Homo sapiens: one gene and its partner. The main gene of each other region encodes a partner of the protein of the gene in region 2 in a complex. Each region holds a gene or a part of one and is shown on either strand. Other genes may lie near its edges. The genes, in order: G3BP1 and CAPRIN1.

The links.
Region 1: the proteins of CAPRIN1 (region 2) and G3BP1 are in contact, whole or in part, in a crystal structure (PDB 8TH7), measured with the Homo sapiens proteins. Residues at the interface, in NP_005889.3 of Homo sapiens: Met363, Gln365, Met366, Gln367, Gly368, Pro369, Tyr370, Asn371, Phe372, Ile373, Gln374, Asp375, Ser376, Met377, Leu378; in NP_005745.1 of Homo sapiens: Glu4, Lys5, Pro6, Ser7, Leu10, Val11, Glu14, Phe15, Arg17, Gln18, Thr21, Leu22, Met29, His31, Arg32, Phe33, Tyr34, Gly35, Lys36, Gln58, Lys59, His62, Leu114, Glu117, Asn122, Lys123, Phe124, Tyr125.

Annotation. Positions count from the first base shown.
Region 1 is NC_000005.10:151,795,837-151,799,756, forward strand, and holds part of G3BP1 (ras GTPase-activating protein-binding protein 1), read left to right. Parts: intron 1-1,390; coding exon 1,391-1,592; intron 1,593-3,375; coding exon 3,376-3,477; intron 3,478-3,920. UniProt on the Homo sapiens protein: Protein involved in various processes, such as stress granule formation and innate immunity. Plays an essential role in stress granule formation.
Region 2 is NC_000011.10:34,089,469-34,093,388, reverse strand, and holds part of CAPRIN1 (caprin-1), read right to left. Parts: intron 3,211-3,920; coding exon 3,100-3,210; intron 2,861-3,099; coding exon 2,711-2,860; intron 1,484-2,710; coding exon 1,333-1,483; intron 1-1,332. UniProt on the Homo sapiens protein: mRNA-binding protein that acts as a regulator of mRNAs transport, translation and/or stability, and which is involved in neurogenesis, synaptic plasticity in neurons and cell proliferation and migration in multiple cell types.

The DNA of each region.
Region 1 (3,920 bases), on a different chromosome or scaffold from region 2:
TAAGTGAAAACTTGCATATTGTTTATCAAGAGTTGAATGTATTGAGGTATTAAATGCTTTGAGGGAATATGAAGTGGACAGAGACCTATTTAATTAGAGATCGGGCATAAATTGATATAAATACCAATATGTGAGTTAAGTAGCAATAAAGAATTTCATTACGTTAGTAAGTGCATCATTATACCTTTGGGTTTTTTCCCCCTTGTGATTAGAACAGAAATGTGTTTGATAGCAATAGAAATCCATATTTACTTGTTACCATGTGATACTGAATGTTAATATTCAGTGCCTGAAGGGTGTTTTCAAGTGTTTCTTAAGGTGTGATGAACTAATCAGGTTACTCACTTGGGTTGCTGGTTGAAAATGAAGATTCATGGTCCCACTGCAAACCTACCGAATTAGACTTTCAGGAGGCAAAACATCTGCAGTTTTGTTTGTTTTTGTTCTATTGAGACAGAGTCTTGCTCTGTTACCCAGGCTGGAGTGCAGTGGCGCGATCTTGGCTGACTGCAACCTCCGCTTCCTGGATTCAAGCAATCCCCCTGCCTCAGCCTCCTGAGTAGCTGGGACTACAGGCGCACGCCACCATGCCCGGCTAAGTTTTGTGTTTTTGTAGAGATGGGGTTTCGCCATATTGGCCAGGCTGGTCTGGAACTCCTAATCTCAGGTGATCTGCCCACCTTGGCCTCGCAAAGTGCTGGGATTACAGGTGTGTGCCCAGCCCCCTCTGCAGTTTTAACAGCATTTCTGGTTGATTTATGTGGAATTTTAAGAATTGTATTCTGAATCATAACTATTTTCTCCCCCAAATTCCTTATGTGCTTGAAAGAGTTTTTGTGTGTTTGTGTTAAAAGCCACATATCATAAAATTTGCCATCTTAACCTTTTTTTCATCTTAACCATTTTTAAGTGTAAAGTACAGTAGTGTTAACTGTATAGATGTGGTTCTATGACAGATATCTAGGACTTTTCACCTTACAACTTTTATTGAAGATAACTTTATATACCTTATAAACAGACTATACCCATTGAATGGCAACTTTCTTTCCCGCCCCCCCCGCCCCAGCCTATTTTGAGAGTTTTTCTGATGTTGTATGCTAAATGAATTGTAATAGTTGTGGGATTCCAGCCATAAAGTGGTTTGGTTCATTTTGATGTCCTGATTCATTTGCTTATCAGAATTTGCCAAACAAATGGATTCCAGTTAAGTTATTGAGTGGCATTTTAAAAATTACTTTTTAAAAACTCAGATAGATATACAATTCTTAGATTTTTGTTTTGGATAGAAGGAGCTAACTCTGTGTTCTGGTTTCTGATTAATAAATGATGGAGGAATTTTTTGTGAAATAAATGGTGGCAGAATGATATTTCTCAAATTTTCCTGTCAAAGTAATGACATGGAAGAACATTTAGAGGAGCCTGTTGCTGAACCAGAGCCTGATCCTGAACCAGAACCAGAACAAGAACCTGTATCTGAAATCCAAGAGGAAAAGCCTGAGCCAGTATTAGAAGAAACTGCCCCTGAGGATGCTCAGAAGAGTTCTTCTCCAGCACCTGCAGACATAGCTCAGACAGTACAGGAAGACTTGAGGGTATGAAACGTGTCTTCATTTTTATTCTATTCCTAGTTATTTTTTTTAAAAAAAGTTTCTGTTCTTTTGTATTGCTGTTTGGTTGACTTGTAGATACATTTTCATATTGGTGGTTCATTTCAGGGAAATTTCTTAGATATTGAGCCATATGTTTGATAAGAGAGAGGTAAGATGTGTATTAGTTTATTTCATCAAAAGAAACCACTCCCTTCCCCGAGGTAACTTGAATGCCTGTTAGACCAGAAATTTTAGGTGCCACTGTAGCACCCTATCAGTGATTCCTTTTCTATTTAATATTTAATCTTTTACACTATAAATTATTACATACTTGTTACTACAAGTGCATAACATCTTTTCAAGAAAAATAACATGGCAGAATATACTTTTTCTATGAAATTTTATTGAAGATAACTTTATAGTGGAAGTAGAAATGAACTGCTGAAGTAAAACTTCTTTTCTAGTTGGCATACCTGATTTCAGAAGTTTTCAGTTTGTCCTTCTGAGTCTCGTCAGGGTGATTGTTAACTGAACTATCGTTGAAACCTTTGCATTTGGTGCTCTGGAAAGGAATATAATTTTTAGTGCTGTGTTTATAGGCTCAGGGTTATGTCATTTGTTTGTTCAATAATTCAAATTCCTGCTGTGTGTTAGGCATTGTTCAAAGTGTAGGTTTTATATTGGCAAAACAGATAGGGGTTCTTGTTCTCTGGCAGCTAATAGGTGAGTAGGAAAGAGCAATGTTGAAATGACTTTAGCTTGCAAGTGGAAAAAATTAGCTGGGCATGGTGGTGCCTATGTGTGGTCCCACCTGCTTGGGAGGCTGAGGTAGGAGGATGGCTTAGCCTGGGAAGTCAAGGCTGCAGTGAGCTATGATTATGCCACTGCATTCCAGCCTGGGTAATAGAGTAAGACCTTGTCACAAGAACAAAACCATAAGAAGCAAGTGGAAAAGTAGGTTGGCTGGACCAGCTGACCACTTAGTTGGTTATTATAGTAACCCTAGTGAGAGAGAATGATGGCTTGAATTAGAGTTGTGGCAGTGGAAATGGAAAAGAAATAATTAGGTAGAATAACAGGTTCTGGCGATTTTTAAATGTGCGAGAAAGGTGTTTATGATGATTCTACAATTGATGTAATTGAGTCGATGTTTGTACAATGGATTGGATGGAATCACAGTAGGAAGAGCTGAGCTGATTTTGGAGGAGAGGGAATTTTGTTTGATTCACAGATTTGAATGAAAGTAGCTTTTGTTGGGCCAGGCGTTGTGGCTTACGCATTTAATCCCAGCACTTTGGGAGGCTGAGGCCAGGAGGATTGCTTGAGTTTAGGAGTTCAAGACCAGCCTGGTCAATATAGTGAGACTTCATCTCTACTAAAAAGAAAAAATAGCTGGACATGGTGGCACATGCCTGTAGTTTCAGCTGCTTGGGAAACAGGTGGGAGGATCACTTGAGCACAGGAGATGTAGGCTGCAATGAGCTGTGTGCATGCCACTGCATTCCAGCCTGGGCAACAGAGCAAGATTCTGTCTCAAAAAAAAAAGTGAGTAGTTTCTTGAACCTAAGCCTCTCGGATTTGCTTGGTACTTGATCATCAGTCCCAAGGAATTTCAGTACTAAATTTTGAATAGCTGAAAGAGAAGAATCTTAATATATATATATAAACTCCATCCTGCCTATGAGAATGTGTTACCGTTTGTTCTGTACAGGAAATCAAGAGTTAGTAGCTTTTATATTGTTTTGATACCTGGTATAATTATGTAATGTTGGTATTGCTCCCTTAGACATTTTCTTGGGCATCTGTGACCAGTAAGAATCTTCCACCCAGTGGAGCTGTTCCAGTTACTGGGATACCACCTCATGTTGTTAAAGTACCAGCTTCACAGGTAAGGTCCTAATAAAACTTGTACATTAGGCAAATTTACTTCTATTGTGGTAATTTGATTCAACAGAGGTTTAGAGAATGTGAAAACTGGTCAGGTGCAGTGTGGCTCATGCCTGTAATCCCAGCACTTTAGGAGGCTGAAGCCAGCTGATCACTGGAGCCTAGGAGTTTGAAACCAGTCTGGGCAACATAGTGAGACCCTGTCTCTACAAAAAATAAGAAATTAGCTGGGCCTTGTGGCATGCATCTGTAGTCCTAGCTACTTAGGAAGCTGAGGTGGGAGGATTGCTTGAGTCCCGGAGGTTGAGGCTGCAGTGAGTCATGATTGTGCCACTGCACTGCATCATGGGCGACATACTGAGACTCTGGCTCAAAAAAAAAAAACCAACCCAAATCAATGTAGAAACAGAACTGACATATAGGACGGAAGAGAAGGGTATAAGA
Region 2 (3,920 bases):
TAAGGTAGAGGTGGGAGGACTGCTGGAGGCCCTGAGTTTGAGAAAAGCCTGCAGTCCAAGCTACTTGTGGGGAGTTAAAGGCTCCAGTACAGGATTTGAGCCCCAGAGTTAAAGGCTCCAGTATCTGATTACACCACTGCACTCCAACCTGGGCAACAGACAGAGACCCCATTTCTTAAAAAAATATATATATAAAAAAAAATCTAAAGTATCTCTATCGAGCTAGACAAGGTAGTTCATGCCCATAATCCCACCACTCTGGGAGACAGAGACAATAAGTTCGCTCAAGGCAAGGAGTTGGAGATCAGCCTGGCATCATAGTGAGCTCCTGGAGACCCTATCTCTACAAAAAAAAAAAAAAAATTAGCCAGCCATGGCGGTAAGCACCTGTAGTCCCAACTACCAACTACTCAGGAGGCTGAGGGAGGAGGATCATTGAGCCCAGGAGTTTGAGGCTGCAGTGAGTTATGCTGGCATCACTGCACTCCAGCCCGGGCAACAAAGTGAGAACCTGTCTCAAATACATAAAAGCGTCCCTACCTACATTACTATCGTGACAGGTATGGTAACTAGCCAAATTATGACCTTACTTGACAAAATAGATTATGTTTCAACCCAGTCCACGAAATGCAGCCACCATGAGTTTTTTCTTAACTTTGTCTAACTGACTCAATGCCAGATATCATGCTAAAAGCCTTCAATCAATTAACAATTAAAAGTATAGTTTATCACCAGGTGCAATGGCTCACGCCTTTAATTCCAGCACTTTGGGAGGCTGAGGTGGGCAGATCACGTGAGCTCAGAAGTTCAAGACAAGCCTGGGCAACATGGTGAAACCCCAACTTTACCAAAAATACAAAAAATTAGCTGGACGTGGTGGCACATGCGTGTATTCCCAAGCTACTTGGGAGGCTGAGGTAGGGAGGATTGCTTGTGTCCAGGAGGCAGAGGTTGCAGTAAGCCGAGATCACGGCACTGCGCTCCAGCCTGGGTGACAGAGTGAGACCCCATCTCAAAAAAAAAAAAAAAAGTACACTTTATGGTAATTCAAGTAACAAATTTAATTCCATATAAATTATACAATGCAACAGGGATATTATGTAAGTTCAGTGACAAAAGGAAAATGGCTATAAAGCCTCCAAAAATTGCACATAATTCACATATACAAGTACAGACTCAATTTAACTCATGATCTGAAATGAAAAATTCATATGGTCTGCTACTAAAACAGAAACTCTTGGACACCACCACTCTGAAGTCTAAACTGTCCTAACACTGTCAATAACTGTGCTGGAAAGCAAGGAGCCAATGAGGTGACACTGGATTTCGTACCTGTTTGAAGCTGTTCTTGCTGAAGCTCTGTTTGTTCTACTTGGTGAGGCTGACTAGAAAAGCTCTGGTTATAACTGGCCTGGTACTGATTTTGCTGTTTTAAAGTTTCTGGTTCATTAACAGGAGGAACTGGGGCATTCATATTGAACACCTGTTAGTAAATAAAGTAAATGATTAGTTCATCCTTTTATTCTCTGGTTTATAACATGGCCAAACTCAATGGTGGTTTTACCTCAGACATAAATAAAGACATCACAGAGGTCTCAAACACAAAAACATCACACACACATACAAAAATCCCTCCAAGTGATTCAATGTGGAAAAAGACATATATACCATATAGTACTTAAAGGGGAGTATAATATGCTGTGAAATGGAAGTAGGGAATTAAAAAAAATAAAAAGACATGCAATCAGCAGCCTTGGAAATGCTTTTACATATATGAGAAATCTTTTTAAAAGACAAACTCTGGCCTGGCACAGTGGCTCACACCTGTAATCCCAGCACTTTGGGAGGCTGAGGCAGGCAGATCATCTGAAGCCAAAAGTTCAAGACCAGCCTGGCCAACATGGTGAAACCCCGTCTCTACTAAAAATACAAAAATTAGCTGGGCATGGTGGCTTATGCCTGGAGTGTCAGCTACTCCAAAGGCTGAGGCATGAGAATCGCTTGAACCCAGGAGGCGGATATTGCAGTGAGCTGAGATCACGCCACTACACTCCAGCCTGGGCGACGGAGCAAGACTTTGTCTCAAAAAATAAATAAATAAGACAAACTCCTGGATGCAGTACCACTTACAGAAGTTTGTTCTATGAACTTTAACAGGGTTGAATGTTTTTTCATTTTTATTAACATATTAATCAAAAGTTATTTTAATATTTAATCTTATGAACTTTCCTCTCAGCACCGATTTAGCTGCACCCCACAGATTATAGTATTATTATTATTTTCTAGAAATTCTCTAAAGGTGCTTGCTCAAGAATCAAGGTAAAGCATAACATCTGAAACTTCAAAATACTTCAGTAAAATAAAAGATTAAGCAAACAGGGCAACTATTAAATCTAGGTAATGATTATATGGATGTTATATTAGTCTATTTCTCTGAATGTTTAAGCTTTTGTTAATCAAATCAAAAGGGTAAAACTACAAATTAAGATGATACAGGCACATCACTCATAAGGCTAAAATTTATCTCTAGAATATCCGTTAGTATCAGTTAATCTCTGGAATAATCAGTTTATGTTCAATTAAATATACCCTACAGTTAATGAAAGATGCAGACTCAAGCACAGTTAAATGAAGACCTTTAAAAAAGAAAAGAAAATCTACCATGATTCATATTACATACTAGGCAATTAATGTTAGTTAATTTGCTTACCGTTTGCATGGATTGGAATGGAGCTGCATTTACATTGATTCCACTGCTATGTAAAGGTTTGCTTGTCCCAGCCTGAAATACTTGAGGCTGAGACGCAGCAGGAAGGGATGATGATGCTGTAGTCTGGTCTGTATTTAAAGAGATTGTTGCCTAAACACAAAGTGAATAGATGCACTTTAGCGGTAAACTAAACTTAGCCAAACAAAAAGTGAACAGATGTACTAAAGTGGTAAATTAATCTCAAACTTATATGTATTAACAAACTCAAATATTTCATGAAAGCAAAGTAGGTCCAAAAAGAAGAATCATTATATTAATGGTAATGTACATCTGTTCAATTCATGAGTAAGTGCCTCATCAAATGTATGTGACCCGGTAACAGAACTTGCCTGAATCTGATCAATTGGTTCCTTCTGTGGTCGTTGCTCTGTAGCATGAGAAGGCTGGTACAAGGGTTGAGATGCTGTGTACCCCTCACTTGTGGATGATACCAAAGGAACCTAGACATAAGTAAAGAAATAAAAGCTTCTTCCTGCTTACAAAATTGACTGTTAAAAAAACAAGTTACCTCTAAGACGCATAAGGCTAAGAAATAGATACAACTGCTAAAGAAGGGAGAAATTAATATTACCATCTCTCTTTAAATTTGTATAATATAAAACCTAAAAATTGCAAAAATATATATATTTTTGAAGCTCGACGTTAAATAAACCCAAGTCTCGTTATAAAAGCCCTCCACAAGTACTTCTAAGATGGAGAAATCTGCACTAAATTTTAGAATTATGTCTAAACTATGTCTTCTGAAATTCTCAGTTCTAAATAAAAAAGGCTTATTATATTATAATACATTATTTAAAATGCAAGACTTAAGAAAAACTTAAAAAGTCATCAAGAGGAAAAATGAACCTAAACATAAAAATAAAGGCTGACAGCTATCCACAACAATAAATTTGCTGAATTCCAACAGAAGACTTGGACACTGATGAAATTCTTATTTTCTTTCATAAGCTAAGAAAGAAACCAAGGAACCAATTAAAACAAAAGTGAAAAAATATTTTTTAATTATTTTTTTAAAATAGAGATGGTGTCTCGCTACACTGCCCAGACTGGTCTTGAACTCCTGACCTCAAGTGATCCTCCCATCTCAGCCTCCTAAAGTACTAGGATTATAGGTACGAGCCACCTAACCTGGCCCTGAAGAAAATAGTTT